Regions from separate parts of the Homo sapiens genome. Here region 2 is linked to region 1. The links come from fine-mapping of genetic effects on gene expression. A gene starts in region 1. The other region holds a variant in brackets. All regions are shown on one strand. Distances are between the middles of the regions. Region 1 holds the start of S100A4 (S100 calcium binding protein A4). Region 2 holds the start of S100A2 (S100 calcium binding protein A2).

What was found. PIP is the estimated chance that this variant, and not a neighbour inherited with it, causes the effect.
Region 2: its variant is fine-mapped to the expression of S100A4 in whole blood (TOPMed, PIP above 0.99).

What each region holds. Positions count from the first base shown.
Region 1 is chr1:153,541,359-153,550,301 of GRCh38, reverse strand. It overlaps S100A4 (S100 calcium binding protein A4), which reads left to right and starts at 4,496. Exons shown (of 3, transcript NM_002961.3): 1 at 4,496-4,549; 2 at 5,493-5,648; 3 at 6,379-6,681. The coding sequence starts at 5,508. The coding sequence ends at 6,543. It overlaps S100A3 (S100 calcium binding protein A3), which reads left to right and starts at 1,044. Exons shown (of 3, transcript NM_002960.2): 1 at 1,044-1,121; 2 at 1,812-1,957; 3 at 2,456-2,973. The coding sequence starts at 1,817. The coding sequence ends at 2,620. LOC101928034 (a long non-coding RNA gene) reads right to left here and starts at 4,560. Exons shown (of 3, transcript NR_125947.1): 1 at 4,393-4,560; 2 at 1,187-1,881. It also overlaps a transcript of S100A5 not described here. RefSeq lists enhancers at 1-392, 956-1,517, 4,226-4,415, 4,566-4,615, 4,426-5,006 and 1 more and a silencer at 695-989.
Region 2 is chr1:153,562,963-153,571,905 of GRCh38, reverse strand. It overlaps S100A2 (S100 calcium binding protein A2), which reads left to right and starts at 6,062. Exons shown (of 3, transcript NM_005978.4): 1 at 6,062-6,400; 2 at 8,019-8,172. The coding sequence starts at 8,029. RefSeq lists enhancers at 3,918-4,674, 4,901-5,140, 4,838-6,037, 6,011-6,070, 6,190-6,947 and 1 more. The variant G/A (reference allele first, on the strand shown) is at 5,300.

The DNA.
Region 1 (8,943 bases):
GGGGGAGGGCAGATGGGGAATGAAAGGGGAGTGGTGTCTGAGCCCAGACTGGCCTTTGATGTGTGCGTGGATAGGTGGGCAGGTGGGGCCTGTAATGGGTCTGCTGAGGGATCCCTGAGGGCATCCTCAGTGTTGACCTACTTGTGTCCCCCATAATTGCTTCCTTCCTTTCTTGGGAGGCTACAAATAGTGACGCCCTGTCTCTAAGCTCCTACAGCTGAAACGCCAGCACCAGTGGTGAGTGCCAGCTGCTTGGGTCCTGCCCTGGGTTGAGTGTCAGGGCAGTTTGGGGACCCCCAGTAGCCAGCCTGACTCCTGACCCAGGGTCTGGCATTGGAAGCAGAGAGATGACCACAGGCGGGCCTGACACGGGGAGGGAAGTCAGATATAGTGGACGCAGAGGTTTCCTTACACAGTGAGGGGCTGTTGGGGAAGTTTGGGCAGGGAGGTGTGTAGAGCTAAGGTCTGCCTTGGGGTGGGAGCACTGGGCTCAAGGCTCTGGTCTTCCCCTTGATCAGGCCCCTCACCTGCTCCTTGCCTCCTTGCTTCACCTCTGAGTCTCCTCATTTCTGAGGATCATGGCCCTTTCCTCTCCTGGGAACCTGGACACCTTGCTCTAATCCTGGGGTGTTTACAATGAATTAAATCCTGGCAGTGCTTGGCACTCCCCACTCCCCTTCCCCTACTTTCCTGCCAGCCACAACCATGCCAGCCATTTGCTCCCAGCAGGGGGCCCAGCAGTGGGCAAATCTTCAGGGAGAGTCTTGGCCCTGGCCGCCCTGTGCTGCAGGACTCTTGTCCCGTGGGGGAATCAGGAGTGAGTCACTGGGCTAGCATGGAAAAAACTCTTGCCTTCCTGGCTGCCTTCGGGTTTTCCCAGGCTGGAGGCATCATCCCAGAAGGGCGGTGGAAGGGGACAGTGGAAGTGGGGGGAGGTGAGCAATTCCAGGAAGGGCTTCCCCTCCAATAGAACAGAGTATCCCTATACAGAACCTCCCTGCTCAAAACCCCCAGGGGTCGGGAGGGTAACCTCAGGGGAGGCCAGTCTCAGATTGGTAAACACCCGAACTGGTCAACTCTCAAGAGACCATCTGGTTCAGGTTCCTGACTGGGCCAGCGAGGTGAGATGAACCCCAACTTACAGATCAGGCCCCGCCCCTGAGACCCAGAGAGACAAATGGCTCACCAAGGTTGCACAGCTGGCGACAGGCAGAGAGGATCCCACAAGTTTTTCTTCTGGGTGCAGCTTCCTCGAGTTCAGGGCAGGAGGCAGGGTGAGGGCAGTGGTGGTGAGGCTGTGGGGGCGCCTCTCAGACCTGCCCCTCCCTGCTAAGGCCTAGCTTCTCCAAGGGCTGAGGGCAGAGAAGCACAGGGCCAGGCTCTCCTTGTGCAAGTTCCTGCAGGGAGGGAGGCTTCTAGGGCATCTCATGGGCTGGGGCAGACTGGGACCGAGCCATCCCTGGGTGTTGGGGATAAGAAGAGGTGGCAGATAATCTGAGAGTGCTTAAGGAGCCCCACGGTGGGGTGTGTGGGTGGTGGGGTAGGATGCTGTCTCTCTGAGGAGTTTACAGCGATGTTGGGGCAATGAGACCTCTACATGGGGAAATAACAACAGGACAGCAGGGGGATAAATTAGGAGGGGCTGGTGTGGTCTGGGAGGGCTACTCAGAGGAGGGGGAGACTGCGGGGCCTGAAGCCTGATGGAGGTTAAGATGGGTCTGGGAACAGTCTCTGAGAAACACAGAGGGCAGAGGTGAGCTGGGGGGCTGGCCTGGAACTCTGCTGTGAGCCACACCCTTGTTCTGTGACAGTGAGGATGGCCAGGCCTCTGGAGCAGGCGGTAGCTGCCATCGTGTGCACCTTCCAGGAATACGCAGGGCGCTGTGGGGACAAATACAAGCTCTGCCAGGCGGAGCTCAAGGAGCTGCTGCAGAAGGAGCTGGCCACCTGGACCCCGGTGAGCAGTCAGAGTGTCCGTCCCCTCCTCCTCCGGGGGGAGGCACTGCCTAGACTCTGCAAAGAGAGACCTGGGGACAACAAGCATGAGCACAGGACAGCAAGGGAGGGGGCTGGATTGTGAGGAGGGAGTGGGAGGGGGAGAACTGACACAGCAGAAACCTCAGCTTCCTCATCTGTAAAATGGGATGACAATCATCCCTGCTGCCTTGCAGAGCTGTTGAGAGGACTGAGTGAGAGCACCATGAAGAATGCCTAACACTTGGTAGGCACTCAGTAGCAAATAGTAGGTGCTCGATTAATAATCTGAGAGGACAGATTTGGGAGGGGATTGCAACGAGTGCATTATCAGAGCAGGGAGGTTGAAGTCGGCCCTCAGAAGGGTGTAGTTTGGGGTGGGGTGGGTCCACTTGGGAGAGGAAGGAGGGAGGTGGCGTGTGAGGCTGTTCTGCCCTCCTCATCCTACTCCCTTACCTCTCCCAACCCTTCCCTTGCACAGACTGAGTTTCGGGAATGTGACTACAACAAATTCATGAGTGTTCTGGACACCAACAAGGACTGCGAGGTGGACTTTGTGGAGTATGTGCGCTCACTTGCCTGCCTCTGTCTCTACTGCCACGAGTACTTCAAGGACTGCCCCTCAGAGCCCCCCTGCTCCCAGTAGCCTCTGCTCCAGGGGGTGCGCTGGCTGTCGGGGGCTGGGCATGTCTCCCACACCCCCTCCTACCCTCTCTCCTGTACCCCTTTCAATCTGGACTTGCCCAGGTCTTCTGCGATCAGTTAACCCATTTTACCTAGGAGGCCCAGAGATGTGAGGGCTCCTTCCTCAGGATGCCCAGCGAATGAGGGGTAGAGCCACTCTGGGGCCCAGCCTGCCTGCCGCACCCCTGTGGCCTCCCTTGTGGATGGGAGGAGGCGGGATCTGCTCTGAGGCCCTCGAGGCTCAGCAGAGCGTGCACCAATGAGACCACGATGGGAAAGGGCCTATTTAACTCCTAATAAAAAACTGGCATCAGCTTGGTTTTGTTTGGTTCTTCTCTGAGGACGCGTCTCCTGAGCTCTTTGCTCCTCTCTGGCCTTTTCCACTGCGGGAAGGCAGCTGAGGGCAGGGGCAGGGTGCTCCCTGAGGGAAGTTGCAGACCCTGCAGAAATGCAGTGGCCTCCAGGGTCCAGCAGGAGGGCGTGGGGACAAAACAAGGACCCCTGTCCTCCCTTCCTCTCTCTCTTTCTTTGGGATCTTTGAGAGAGGACTGCCTGAGTTTCCCCTGGGACTCAGTGCTCATGGTTGGAGGAGGGTGGGGCCGTGGGTGCAGTGGGGGTGTTTGTTCCCTGCCTCGGGCTGTGGGAGCCCAGAGAGCAGCACTAATGGGATTAGGGTGTCTGAGGTGTTTCTCCCAGCCAGGAAGGGGTGCTCTGTATGGAGGGGTAAGGGAATAACTTGAGCTAGCCCCTATCCCTGAAGCCGCAGCCCCCTGAGGGCCTTAACCCCCTACTTCTAACCCTCACTGGGTTTGTAGCCCACCCTGAGAGGTTGACCCGAATTATAACTCCCCTATTTCATGCCATTTCACCTCTAACTCTCCACCCCAACCTGGATTCTTCATTCCTGACACTCATCCCAACTTTAAATGGCCCCTCCTGATACCCTCTCCGAACCTGAGATCTATCCGTGAGCCCCCACGCCTCACTGCCACTCCACTCCATCACTACCTCACCCAGGACCTTTCCCACTGACGTTCCTGAGGTGGTCCCAGAGCCTCCTTTGGGTGTGAGCCTGTTCCCCTCCAGATCCCCCCGCCCCGACCCTGAGCCTTACTTGGCATGGCAGACAGTACCGGGCATGGGGATCCCCACCCCAGTTTTTGTTTCTGAATCTTTATTTTTTTAAGAGACAAGGTCCTCTGTGTTGCTCAGGCTGGAGAGCAGTGGCTTGAGCATAGCCAACTGCAGTCTCGAACTCCTGGGCTCAAATGATCCTCCTGTCTCAGCTTCCTGACTAGCTGGGACTACAGGCTACAGCCATGCTGCCCAGCTAATTAAAAAAAAAAATTGTTTTTCCTTTTTATAGAGACAGAAGTCTCTCTATGTTGCCTAGGCTGGTCTTGAACTCCTGGCCTCAGGCGATCCTCCCATCTCCCCCCTAGCTTTTGTGTCACCACATTTCCAGGGCAATCTCCCACCTGTCACCCACCACCCCCTGCATCTCCTTTCCTAGGTCCCCATGGGACTACTCCCTGTCCCCCATGCTCCAGGCACAGGCTGCCCCTTCCTCCACCTCTCTAAAACTCAGGCTGAGCTATGTACACTGGGTGGTGCCCATCTCATCCAGTCCCCTGCTAGTAACCGCTAGGGCTTACCCGTTACCCACGGGTGCCCACCTGGGAACAGGAGGCTTGGTTCCACGGCTGGGCTGGTGGAGGGTGCTGTGGCACTTACCGCATCAGCCCACAGCAGGAAGGCAGTATCCGCTCTCCCCTGTCCCCTGCTATGGGCAGGGCCTGGCTGGGGTATAAATAGGTCAGACCTCTGGGCCGTCCCCATTCTTCCCCTCTCTACAACCCTCTCTCCTCAGCGCTTCTTCTTTCTTGGTTTGGTGAGTTGTGTTGGCCTGACTGGCATGCAAGGGGTGTCAGAGGCCAGGGCTGGGGAAGGAGAAGGGGAGGCTGGTGGGGGCCAGATGTGCTAAAGAGATCCAGATGTGAGATTCTGATGTGGAACTCTGGGTGGATTGTGTGCGTGGGTGTGCATGGCACACACACACATGCACGTAAGACGGAGGAAAAAACAAACAGAAAAGTGAGCAAGTGACTGAATTTGAGCTCTCCAGGTGCTTCTGAGATGTGGGCTTGCACACGCTGTTGCTATAGTACGTGTTGGTATGTATGTGCCTGTGGGTATCTGCACTGGCTCATGTTTGCTGGGTTGCGCACTCGGGAGCAGGAAGCAAAGGAAAGGCAGAAGGCAACTGTGGGCCTTTGTCTGGTGGTGTGCCCCATGAGCCTCTGCCCTGCACGCAGCAGCCCAGCTCGAGAAGGTGCATGGCCTCTGCAGCTTCTCTTCCAACCCTTGCCTCTGCCACCTCACTTTGCCCCTCCCCATGCTGAGAGCTAAGCGGCTGTGCTGGTTTTTTCCACTGCAGGCCCCTGGGCAGGCCTCCAGCAGCCACACCCAGTTCTGGGAGGGAAAAGAATGGCAAGGGCGGGGCCTTTGTGGCTGAGCTGTGGGAGTGGATAGACTGAGTGAGGGGTGGAAAAAATGCTGTTGTTGAGGCAAGGCCTGGGAGGCCCTGGGAGTTTGCTGCCCGAATCTCCAGAGCTTGCGCAGCGGATCTTGCAAATGTTCACTGCCCAGAGCATGTGTTCCCCACTGTGCACACCCTCCCAGCCAGGTGCGGGGGCCCACTGCTCTGGGCTCCCCCAGGGAGGGAGCAGAGTCTCGCCAAGTGCTCCTGGAGGGATGGGAGTGGAGCCTGGCATTCTGAACACATCTCTGAGGGGTGGGATTAATAAGACGGTCTCTGTGCCTCCTGCTCCCAGATCCTGACTGCTGTCATGGCGTGCCCTCTGGAGAAGGCCCTGGATGTGATGGTGTCCACCTTCCACAAGTACTCGGGCAAAGAGGGTGACAAGTTCAAGCTCAACAAGTCAGAACTAAAGGAGCTGCTGACCCGGGAGCTGCCCAGCTTCTTGGGGGTGAGTGGGTAGTGCCTGAGTGAGTCCCCACGTGGGGCATTTCCCACAGAGGAGGGCAGCAGTCTTGCTCTAGAGCATTAGCTACAGAGGGCATCTATCAGTGGGGTGGCTGCCTGGGGTGGAAACACATTGAACACCACCACTCACTGCCTGGCCCCATGCTGAAAGAGGGCTGAGAATGAATGGGTCAGACACTGCCAGGTGCTTTGCACAACTTAACTGAAGGGAAGACTAAGCTCAGAGTGCTAAGTAACTTCCCAAGGTGGTCAGTGTACACAACTGCCATCCGGACCGGGACTGTCTGACTCTTGCCATCACTCCAACAGTGGACACTGTTTGAGTTTCTATTTGGCTTGTAGATGTGAAGACACAGATGTGGAGATGATCACAGGCCTGCAGACGTTCCCTTCAAACAATAACAATGTATATTTGTATCAAACATAACACAGTTTATATATTGTTTTCATGACTATTACTACCTCATGGGATTATTAGAACAACCTTGGGTGAAAATGTAGTGGTCCCGTCATTTTTCCATTGCACCAGGTACTCAGACTTCCTTATCCAAGGAGCACCTTCTCCACCCTAGCTTAGCCTTGAGGGTTGGAGTTCCAAACTGGACCTCCCAAAGGAGCCTCCCTGAACTCTGGTCTGGGAGTAGAAACTGGGTCTGGTCCTGGCTCCACCCACTGGGCTTCTGTTTTCTATCTGTAGCCTCTTCTCCCTCCAGAAAAGGACAGATGAAGCTGCTTTCCAGAAGCTGATGAGCAACTTGGACAGCAACAGGGACAACGAGGTGGACTTCCAAGAGTACTGTGTCTTCCTGTCCTGCATCGCCATGATGTGTAACGAATTCTTTGAAGGCTTCCCAGATAAGCAGCCCAGGAAGAAATGAAAACTCCTCTGATGTGGTTGGGGGGTCTGCCAGCTGGGGCCCTCCCTGTCGCCAGTGGGCACTTTTTTTTTTCCACCCTGGCTCCTTCAGACACGTGCTTGATGCTGAGCAAGTTCAATAAAGATTCTTGGAAGTTTTGAGGCTGATGGTTTGAGAGACTCTGGGGGCGTGGGTTGGGGACTGAGGGATATGTTGTGGGGTGGTGGTGGGGAGAGCTGGGAGTTGAGCTGAAGTTTTATGGACAGCAGACCAGTGAAGTTAGGGGAGGGATGCAGGGTGACTAACAGTGTGTGTGCACAGGCAATAGAGTTCACTCGGTGTGGTCAAAGCCGAGAAGGGGACCCCTCACCACCCCCCTGCCAAGGTTTGGAAGGTCCCAGCTGTGGGATCTCAGCCAGCCCACTTACCCCTCCCACCTCTCTCCAACCTTGCCTCTGGCAGGATCTTGAACCGAGGCTGGAATTGAAGGTCATATCTGTTCCTGGTTGGGGTCTGGAATGGAGTTTGGGTGTCCTGGGAGTAAGTCGGAGGGAAAAGAATAAGGCTGAGTTGCAGGGAGGAAGTATTTAGGCGAGAGTGGGATGGGGAGGAGGGCTGGCACTCAGTGCTGACGTTGACAGTCCAGGCCCTGTCCTGCCACCCACTTCCAGATCATTGGCTTCAAACCACAGGGATGGATTAATCCTTTCCTGTGCGTGGTAGGATCAGGGAGGGCAATGTGGAGGGAGACCCGCTGTTTGCAGCAGCATGAGAATATAGGCATTCTCGAATCCACCGTCTCTGCCATAAAGGTCCCTGGATGAGATCTGTTATCAGTCAGGAATCAAGCTCCTTCAGAGAAGGACAGGGGACCTCAGAAGAGATGAGTGGGGGTCAGTGGCTGGAGTGGGAGTGAGGCAAATGGTGGGAAGGTGACCATAGTTTTGGAGACAAAATTCCACATATATGATCTGACAAATGAAATTGAGATTATTTTCCCCCCAGAAAATATAAGGCATGATATTGCTTCCCCTTAGGTAGGTTCAAGGCCAGTGGCTCCAGGGTGCAGTGGTGGGTTGAGGTTAGACTTCAAGGCCATGTCTGGGTGACTCAGGGATCTTTTAGGAAGAGGTGCATGGAGGTCAGGTGCAGAGGCTGGAGGGCTTTGTCCCACTGACCTCCTCTTGAGGGTCCTCTTTCCTCTCATCACATGGGGCTTTTCTCTCAGGTTTCAGAGGAGTGGGGCAGGTGACTCAGATGTTCCCGCAGGGTTTGAATACAGAGACTTGGGAGGAATTTCAGTTCAGGAGAAAGTCTGCTGCCTTCCGCTGCCCTCTCCATCCACCCTCCCTGGGAGCGCCCTCCCTGGGGCCTCCACCCAGGTCACGCTCTCCTTCAGAGATGCCTACTGCATAGCAACCAATCCCTGCTGCCTCTCCAATCTTGCCAGCTGGGGGTGGGGTGGAGTGGGGAGCAGTGGGGAGGCCCCCCAGGCTGGGGTGGGACTGCAGCAGTGATAGGTACTACACCCTGAGCCCAGGTCTGTTCTTGGACTGGTGGTAGAAGTATGTTGTTCTACTGTGGTAGAACGATGTCTGAGTGTCTCCTGGGATACAGGAAACTCTCCCTGGCCCCTACTTCCTCCTTGACTGCAGCCTGAACCTGAACCCCCCTCCCCAATCCACAACCTCTACCCCAGTGCTGGGCCTTAGCCCTTCGCTGGACACCTTCCCTATTCCTGATTCTCAGTCCTCCATGCCAAGAGTCTCCGACGAGCCTTTCCTGTGAAGAGCAGTGAGGCCTAGAAGAAATCGTTCATTTAAAAGCCCTTTAAAAACCTCTGGGCCCATATTAGCTCATGACCTTGACCATATCCTTCGCAGAAAATATCTTCCTCCACTGATCCCCATCTCAAGGGCTGTCTTCTCTACTCCTGGAGTGGGTGGCAGGATGGGTGGGAGGGGCCCGATGTGGAGAGCTTCCTAGGACACGGGGAGATGGTGCCCTGTGTTTGTCCCACACTTCTGAGGTTTTCTTTCCAGGACAGCCTGGTTTCCCTTCTTCGGCTTATTGTTCCATCAGATTTCAGATTTTGAGTTCTGATTTTTGGTCAGAAGAGTAAAGTTTCTGGGATTGGGGACGTGTGTGCTATGGGAACTCAGTGTGTCCCCAGCCCTTGTTTGTAAACAAGGAAGGTGAGATTGGCAGAAGGGGTTTCTCCCCAGCTCCATCCCGGGAGGCTCTGACGTGGGCATCCTCAAGTCCCCAACAACTTCTCATGGGCCCTTTCTCTCCCCTGGATTCCTAGGGACAGAGATCAGGGAAATAAAGGCAGAAGGCAGTGAGAGGGAGGCTATGCCTGCTGCTTGGATTCTCTGGGCTCACTCCCACAGTGGTAAGTCCTTCCTTCCTATGTCTCTG
Region 2 (8,943 bases), 22 kb before region 1:
TAGGGTGTTAGATTGCTTCCTCCCCAAAACACTGGCATTGGCAAGAAGAGTTTCTGGTGACGTAGGAGAAAGCTGGTTCCGTAGAATGGTAGCAAGTCAGTTTTCAGGAGGTTCTGGGGGTGGAGGTGGAGGATTTAGAGCATATCTGGAAAAGTGGTGTTGAAGGGAGGAGAGAGGATGGTGGTTACGACGGACAGCACTTGTGCCTCTGTGTCAGGCACTGGGGATATGGAGCATTGACAATACTCAGTGCCTGTTTCTTAGGAGCCCAGTCTAGTGGGAGGGACACATATATAGTCACAATTAAACATAAGAAATAATGGGGGCTGGGTGTGGTGGCTCACGCCTGTAATCCCAGGACTTTGGGAGGCCGAGGTGGGCGGATCACCTGAGGTTCGGGAGTTCGAGACCAGCCTGACCAACATGGAGAAACCCCACCTCTACTAAAAATACAAAATTAGCTGGGCGTGGTGGTGCCTGCCTGTAATCCTAGCTACTCGGGAGGCTGAGGCAGGAGAATCACTTGAACCCGGGAGGCGGAGGTTGCAGTGAGCCGAGATCACGACACTGCACTCCAGCCTGGGTGACAGAGCAAGACTCTGTCTCAAAAAAAAAAAAAAAAAAAAAAAAAAAGAAAAAAGAAAAAAAGGGATAGAGCGATGGGCAAGGGGCTGCAGGAGGAACACTAGCTGTGTGTGTGCATGTGTGTGTGCATATTCTTCTGCTCTAGCAGGTGCGAGGCTGGGAAGTAGATACCGGGATGCTGCATGGAGGCAATGACCTTTGAGCTGAGTTTAAAGGGTGATTAGGATTGACAGGTGGACCTCCTGAGGAAAGGCTTTTCAAGAGAATGTGAGGCATAGGCAGGTGCTTGGAAGCACAGAAGGGCGCGGCATGCACATCAGTGTAGTTGCTGTGCCAGCAAAGGCATGCCATCTCTTCTGAAAGTTATGGGGGTTCACTAAGCATTTGAATCTGGGCTGACATGCTCAGATTTGAATTTTAGAAAGGTTATTCTGGTGGGAGAGCTGAGAAGGGGTTAGAGTTGGGGGGCGAGGATGGAGGTGGGAGGGGAGTTGGGATGTGTTTGCAGTAGTCCAGGAGCAAGATGATGCTGAGGGACCTAAGGCAGTGTGGACAAAGCTGGGTGGTATTTAGAAGGTGGAAACAATAGGTTGACTGGCCAACATCTGGAGGGCAGAGCGGGGGAAGCAGGAGGCTAGAGGACAGGAGGACAGCCACATTTCTGGTTTGGGTGATTGGGTGGATGGTGTTGTTATGTGTGGCAAAGGGGAAGCCAAGAGGAGGTGGGACAATGAGAAATGGTTCTTTTAAGCTTATTTGATTGTATTATTATTTTTTTGAGACAGGGTCTCACTCTGTCACTCAGCTCACTGCAACCTCCACCTCCCGGGTTCAAGCGATTCTCGTGCTTCAGCCTCCTGAGTAGGTGGGATTACAGGTGCACGCCACCACACGCAACTAATTTTTGTATTTTTAGTAGAGATGGGGTTTTGCCATGTTAGGCAGGCTGGTCTTGAACTCTTGGCTTCAGGTGATCTGCCTGCCTCAGCCTCCCAAAATGCTGGGATTACAGGTGTGAGCCACCATGCCCAGTCTCTTTTATATTTATATTTAATCCGGGCTAGGCTGGGCATGGTGGCTCACGTTGGTATCCCAGCACTTTGGGAGGCCGAGGCAGGAGGATTGCTTGAGCTCAAGAGTTCAAGACCCGTCTGGGCAAGATGGCAAAACTCCATCACCACAAAAGATGCAAAAAGATGCGCACAGTGGCGCACACCTATAGCCCCAGTTACTGAGGAGGTTAATGTGGGAGGATCACATGAGGCTGCAGTGAGCTGTGATGGTGCCACTGTACTCCAGCCTTGGCGACAGTGAGTCTATGTCTCAAATAAGTAAGTAAACAAAAATTAAAAAGAATCCAGTCCACAGGGCATTTGAAGGCAAGAGGAAAAGATGCCAGAATCAGAGATGGGGAGAAGATGGGCTTCTGGCGCCTGCTGAGGTTGAGAAATGAGACAGATAGGCTGAGTGTGGGGTGGAGAGAGGATGGGCAGAGAGACTGAGGCTGGTCTGAATGGAAATGAAATGTTAGGGCTCTCAGGGTTATCGGGGAATAATTGGAGCTTCTAGGAAAGGTTTAACGTTGTGACCACCTGTGTTCGTCATGCCTCCCCACCCCTTACTAATTGTGTGAATTTGGCAGACTTTGAGTCTCAGTGTTCTCCTCTGTGAAGTGGGGTCATCTTATTCCAACTCCTGGGATTGTTGTGTGAATTAAATGGGGTAATGTACGGAGAGCACCTGACGCACAGCGAGTGCTTCAAAATTTCAGTCTGCACCCCCCAGCAAAGGATATGCACACGCCCATTGTGAGTGACAAATCCAGGATGACCTGAACCCAATGTGATAACGTGGGTCCTCGCATGCTGGTCATGCTGCCGGGAGACACTTATGGATCCAATTAGTACAACAGGGGAAATAAATTATTTAATGCATTTTGCTAAGACAGAATACCTCAGAACTTATTTTGTGGGGCGGGGCATAATAAAGGGGGTCCTTCTGCTGAAAACGTTTAAGCTCAGGTTCGTGGCACCACTCAACCAAGGTCGACAGTCACACAGTAAGCCAGAGGCAATGTCAGGACTTAAACTAAACCTGTGGCCCCCACAATGAGGCCATTTCTCTTTCCCCTGAACGGCCTGGGGAAAGGGGGTGGGTGGGCAGAACTTGGCAGTGGCCAATCCCTCACTTCTGTCCCCTGGTTTTCTCCTGCCCTTATCTCTAGGCTTGCATTGATTGATTGATTGAGACAGGGTCTTGCTCTGTCGTCCAGGCTGGAGTGCAGTGGCACGATCATGGCTCACTGCAGCCTCAAACTCCTAGGCTCAAGTGGTCTTTCCGCCTCCTATCTCCCGAGTACCCATATCCCTAGGCTTTTAAAATGGCTTCCAGGTATCTGGCTGCCGTCTCAGACATCCACCTGGGCTTCTGGGCAGGGACTGTCCGGGAAACCTCATCTATGTGAAGCAGGTGTGGGTGTAGGAAGGCCGCTTGGAAATGAATCAGCACTGTCTCCTGTTTGAGTCGTAAGCAGGGCGCCAGAGGGTCTGGCGGACAAGAAAGGGAGGATGACAGGAGGCCGGCACTGCAATGACACGCCTTAGCCACCAGAGGGCACGAAGCAGCTGGGCAAAATCCCGCGGGGCCGCTGGTGGAAAATTTCTGGCACCTGGAGCCCGGAGATGGGGTGGACGGAATGTGAGGACCCAGCTTCCTGAGGCTGGGCCGGGGCAGAGTCACTGCTTTGGATGTCCGCAGGGCCTGCTTGTGTCTTGACTACTCTGCCTTTGTAGACAGCTGGAGAATGTGAGAGTGGGATTGGGATCGGACTCTAGGGGCCATTCCGTACAACTCTCCTGCCCTGCCGTGGGGGAGGGAGTTGCCCAAGGTTACGCAGCAAGTTAGTGGCAAATGAATACGATTATCACCAGTCTCAGGTATATGGCCATTTGATGGGCGCAGTCGCAGCCTCAGTTCCTGAGACAGAGACACCTGATTAAGGACAGGCCTTCAGGAGCTGACCCTAGTGACCCGCGGCTCTGCTGCTGTCTCTGTTTTTCTCCCTGGCTTTTCCATCTGACTGACTCTTTGTCTTCTTCGTCTGCCTGCCTGTCTCCGTCTCTGCCCGCTGGGGGGTTTGCTCAACTCCCTCACTGGGTCCTGGGAGCCGCAGTTTCCTGCTGTCACTCCTCAGGGATTTGTAGCTCTCTGAAGCTCTTTTCCGACCCGTTGTCTCGGTTCCACTCTTGGGATCCAGAGGAGAGGTGATTATTTCGTAGCATAGTCAGTGGTGTGATTTCACGGGGTGAGAAGGACTCCCTTGCTCCTAAGCACTCCTCCAGTGACCCCTGTTGCCATGTGGTAGCCGTAAGCACTGGTTGGCACCTGGTGTGGGCGAGACCCTTACCTCATGCAGAAATGAGTAAGACCGGTGAGCTCACCATGTGGGGGTGAGGCTGAGAGAAAACAAGTACACAGGTGATTCAGTCAAAATCAGAATTCTCTAAGTACACACGAAAAGGGCAAAAGGGGCGCTTTGTACAGGACAGAACAGGTAGACACTGAATCCGGTTGGGCCCTGGGAAGGCTCCCTGCAGTGGCCTTTGAAGGGGGGGTTGGATTTCAGCAGGATAGAGGGCATGGGCATGTGTGGGCACGTTCTGAACAGAGGGGTCAGCGCAAGCCGAGGGTCTTGGCCACACTAGTTGCATGTGCCGGTGTGTTTAAGGGACACGCAGCAGCAGGCCGAGTCTGGAGCGCCTCACTGCCAGGCTTTTTAAAAATTTTTAATTTTAATTTAATTTTATTTTATTTTTACTTTAAGTTCTGGCATACATGTGCAGAATGTGGTTTGTTACATAGGTATACATGTGCCATGGTGGTTTGCTGCACCTATCAACCCATCATCTAGGTTTTAAGCCCCGCATGCATCAGGTATTAGTCCTAATGCTCTCCCTCCCCTTGCCCCCATCCTTCTCCCCGCAACTGCCCACAGGCCCTGGTATGTGGTGTTCCCTTCCCTGTGTCCATATGTTCTCATTGTTCAACTCCCACTTATGAGTGAGAACATACCGCCTGGCTTTAAGGGACAGCCATGGGGATGCACTGCAGTTTCTGAGCAGGGAAGGCCCTGTGGAGGCCCTTAGTTAAAAGGAAAGAATGGCTGTGAAAATCGATGCATTGCGCTCCCTTGTCCCTCACCCTCAGTGTGAAGGGTTTTTATTCCGAGTTCTACTTGAAGTAGGCCTCGATGGGAAGACAAGTAGCATGAGGGGTTCAAGTACTGAGGGGAGCAAGGGACACTCGGTGGCTGTGCCAAGGTGTAGAAGAGGACACTGGGGGCCCCAAGGCCTGACTTCATGTACACTGCTCAGGCTGGCCCCCAAGTCACACGGTGACCGCTAGGAAGGGACCAGCCTGTTCTCAGTCTGATCCTCCTGCCATGTCATTATCCAAAGCTCCTCCTGGCAGGGCCTGTTTGGGGTCTCTGTGCCAGTGCTTTCCCTGCCAGGCTGGGCTGGGGCTTCCACCTACTGCTCTGGGACTGCTGCTGCCCTGGCCCTGGGGGAGGAGGGTGTGCCGCTGAGTCACTGCCTGGGCATCTGGGCCTGGAACCTCGGGTGAGTCACTTAGGGCTGAGGTAGAGGGGCTGGGGGAGGGGAAGAAGCTACTCGACAGCTGGAGCAGGGAGGGGAGCTGGGGCCACAGGAAGGGC[G/A]GTGCCCTGATGCCCAGACGGGCCGGGATAGACAAAGGGCCAAGGAGGAAGGGGCCCTGGGAGGGGGCAGCCCTCCCTTGGGCTGGGCTCTGAATGGCCACAGTGTTTGCCTTTCTCCGGGTCTGGGGAGGACATGTGTGTGGGGGGCAGTGAGAGAGGGCTGTGGCTGAGGGCTGTGCTTCAGGCCTGGATTCTGGCTTGGGAAGCTGTCCAGCTGGTGTTTTCAGCCTTGGGTAGGGATGTACCCCTACCCACCCACCCAGCCCTCAAGCTGGAGAAGAGGAGGCCAAAGTTTTCCTGTTCAGCCTTTAACTACTCGGGACTTCCTTATGCTCCCCACAGACTGTGGCCCAGCCCAACTGCGGCTGTGTGTAGAGCAACCCCATTTCTCACTGCTTCCCCATCCTTCCAGACACCTTCCTACACAGAGGGACCTTCCCAGGTATTTCTAAGCACACTTAGTTACCTCATTACCTCATTAAGAGGTATTCTGGTGCTGGCCATTAAAAGTCACTCCACTTCATCCATGCCCTGAAGTCAGTCCTGTCCTTCTCCTCCTGATGTCCCCCAGCTGCCTCCTCTGGCCCCCAGCTTCCTAAGGGTGGCCCCAGGTTGCTTCTCTCTCACACACACGGGCGCATGTATGTACACGAGCACTGGACCATGAAGTCTCAGCGTGTGCTCACAGCCTCTCACACAGGAGTGGGCTGTGACTCACAGGCATGTCATGAGAATGAGGCCTGGCACCAGTCTCCAGGCCCCAGAGCAGGGGTTGCCTCCCCTCACCCCGGTCCAGGATGCCCAGTCCCCACGACACCTCCCACTTCCCACTGTGGCCTGGGTGGGCTCAGGGGCTGCCCTTGACCTGGCCTAGAGCCCTCCCCCAGCTGGTGGTGGAGCTGGCACTCTCTGGGAGGGAGGGGGCTGGGAGGGAATGAGTGGGAATGGCAAGAGGCCAGGGTTTGGTGGGATCAGGTTGAGGCAGGTTTGGTTTCCTTAAAATGCCAAGTTGGGGGCCAGTGGGGCCCACATATAAATCCTCACCCTGGGAGCCTGGCTGCCTTGCTCTCCTTCCTGGGTCTGTCTCTGCCACCTGGTCTGGTGAGTACCTCTGTCCTGCTGAGGGCAGGGTGGGGAGGATCCCCGTGGGTCTCTGTCTTTGTCTCCACAGTTCTCTCATTCCAGCTTCCCTGGTGGGATCAACCTGGGCCTCTCTGGGCCTTCCCCCTTGGAAGAACTCTCTGTGAAGTGCTGAAGTGTTGACTGAAGGGTTTTTTTTTTTTTTTTTTTTTTTTGAGATGGAGTCTCGCTCTGTCGCCCAGGCTGGAGTACAGTGGTGTGATCTCAGCTCACTGCAAACTCCCCCTCCCAGGTTCACGCCATTCTCCTGCCTCAGCCTCCCGAGTAGCTGGGACTGCAGGCGCCCACCACCATGCCCGGCTAATTTTTTTGTATTTTTAGTAGAGATGGGGTTTCACCATGTTAGCCAGGATGGTCTCGATCTCCTGATCTCGTGATCCACCCATCTCGGCCTCCCAAAGTGCTGGGATTACAGGAGTAAGCCACCGCGCCCGGCCGACTGAAGGGTTTTTCTCCAGGTTCCTCTGTGAGGTCTCAGTGCAGGGGTTGCTCTGAGGCCCTCCCCTGGATATCTCAGTCTAGGGGCCCTTCTTTGGGGGTCTAGGCCTAGGAGCAGGAGGTGTGCATGTGGGCGTTGCTGCAAAAAGAATCCTGAGATTTTTTTTTTTTTTTGCAAAGTCCTGGATTCTAGCAGGACTAAGGTGCAAGAGGCAGGGGTCTCAAGACTCTGCCTGGGTCATGGCCCCAAGCAGCAAAGCTCTGCCCCCTGCCTCGGTGAAGGCAGGGCTGGCATGATGGGCCCAGGGCATGCCCTGCCTCTGGCATAGCTCCTCTGGCCTCACCCTGAAACCTGCCTAACCTTTCCAGGCTGGTCTGAGTATTCTCAGAGGCCTTGCCGCTGAGGTCTGTCCCATCCTGATCCCAAGGCAATGAACATTTCATATCTTTAATTCTAATTCCAACAGGATCCTTCCTGGTGGAGAGAATGTTAAGTTGCCCCCACCCTATCCATGCCCCTGTCTGCCTAGAGGCTCAGGGGCCTTCAGGGTGAGGGGAGACACATTCCCCACCCTCTGGGAGCTCCTAGTCTGAGAGAGGAAACACTCCTGCCCAAGGGAGCTTCCAGTTAGATGGCAGAGAGAGATGCCTCTGGCTTCAGGAGTCCCGAGTCTAAGGAGGGAAACGACTCCTTCAGGGAGCTTCCTGCTCCTAGGCTGTAGCCATGGCTCCTGCCAGACTGCACAGGAGCCCCCATCTGCCAGCCGGTGCATGTGGCCCTGCTCCCCAGAGCCTGCGCAGATGCCATCAAAATGGGACTCTGGTCACCCTGTCATTTCCCTTCTGGCAGACACTAAAATGGGGAGCCCTGCCCTCAGGGGGGTGTCCCAAGTGCCATCAGAGGAGGCTTGGTGACTCCCAGACACAAGGGAAGCTTTAGCGTCTGCCCTCAGGGTGAGATGGAGGTATCGCCTCCGGCCTCAGGGAACCACAGTCTGAGGGGGAGATGCAGCCCCTGCCTTCCCATTCAGAGAGGGGTTTTGTGAGGTGGCTTGGGGGCATAGGGCAGAAGTGGATCCTACAGGCTGAGCTAAGGCCCCAAGAGCCTCAGCAGTGTACCCATCACCTGGCACCTCTGCAGCCACAGATCCATGATGTGCAGTTCTCTGGAGCAGGCGCTGGCTGTGCTGGTCACTACCTTCCACAAGTACTCCTGCCAAGAGGGCGACAAGTTCAAGCTGAGTAAGGGGGAAATGAAGGAACTTCTGCACAAGGAGCTGCCCAGCTTTGTGGGGGTGAGTGGCACAGGCCTGTGGGGGAGGTCCTGGTGTGAGTGTGGGGGTGCAGGTTAAATCTCTCCCCCAGTTCCGGGTGCCTGTCGATGCAGGTGCCAGGGTGGGGCCCAGCCCCCTCCCCACTTTAGCTTCATGGCTCCACTGGAGTGGAAATGAGGCCCGAGTGGGAGTGCTTAATTAATGGCTGTTTCCTGCAGCATTCCAGAGAACCATGTGCTGTGAGGGCCTTCCGAGTCCATCTGTTTAATCCTGTCATTGGAGACTTGAGAAACCAGAGCCCAGAAGGGAAAAGTGATTGTCCCAAGATCACACAGCACTGGCACGTTCTCTCTCTCTCTTTTCTTTTCTTTTTTTTTTTTTTGAGATGGAGTTTCCCTCTTGTTGCCCAGGCTGGAGTGCAATGGCACGATCTCGGCTCACTGCAACCTCTGCCTCCAGGGGTCAAGCAATTCTCCTGTCTCAGCCTCCTGAGTAGCTGGGACTACAGGCGCATCCCACTACGCCCAGCTAATTTTTGTATTTTTAGTAGAGACAGGGTTTCACCATATTGGCCAGGCTGGTCTCGAACTCCTGACCTCGTGATCTACCTGCCTCGGCTTCCCAAAGTGATTTTTGTATTTTTAGTAGAGACGGGGTTTCATCATATTGGTCAGGCTGGTCTCGAACTCCTGACCTCAGGTGATCTGCCCTCCTCGGCCTCTGAAAGTGCTGGGCTTACAGGCGTGAGCCACCGTGCCCGGACTCCTTTTTTTTTTTTTTTTTTTGTGGTGG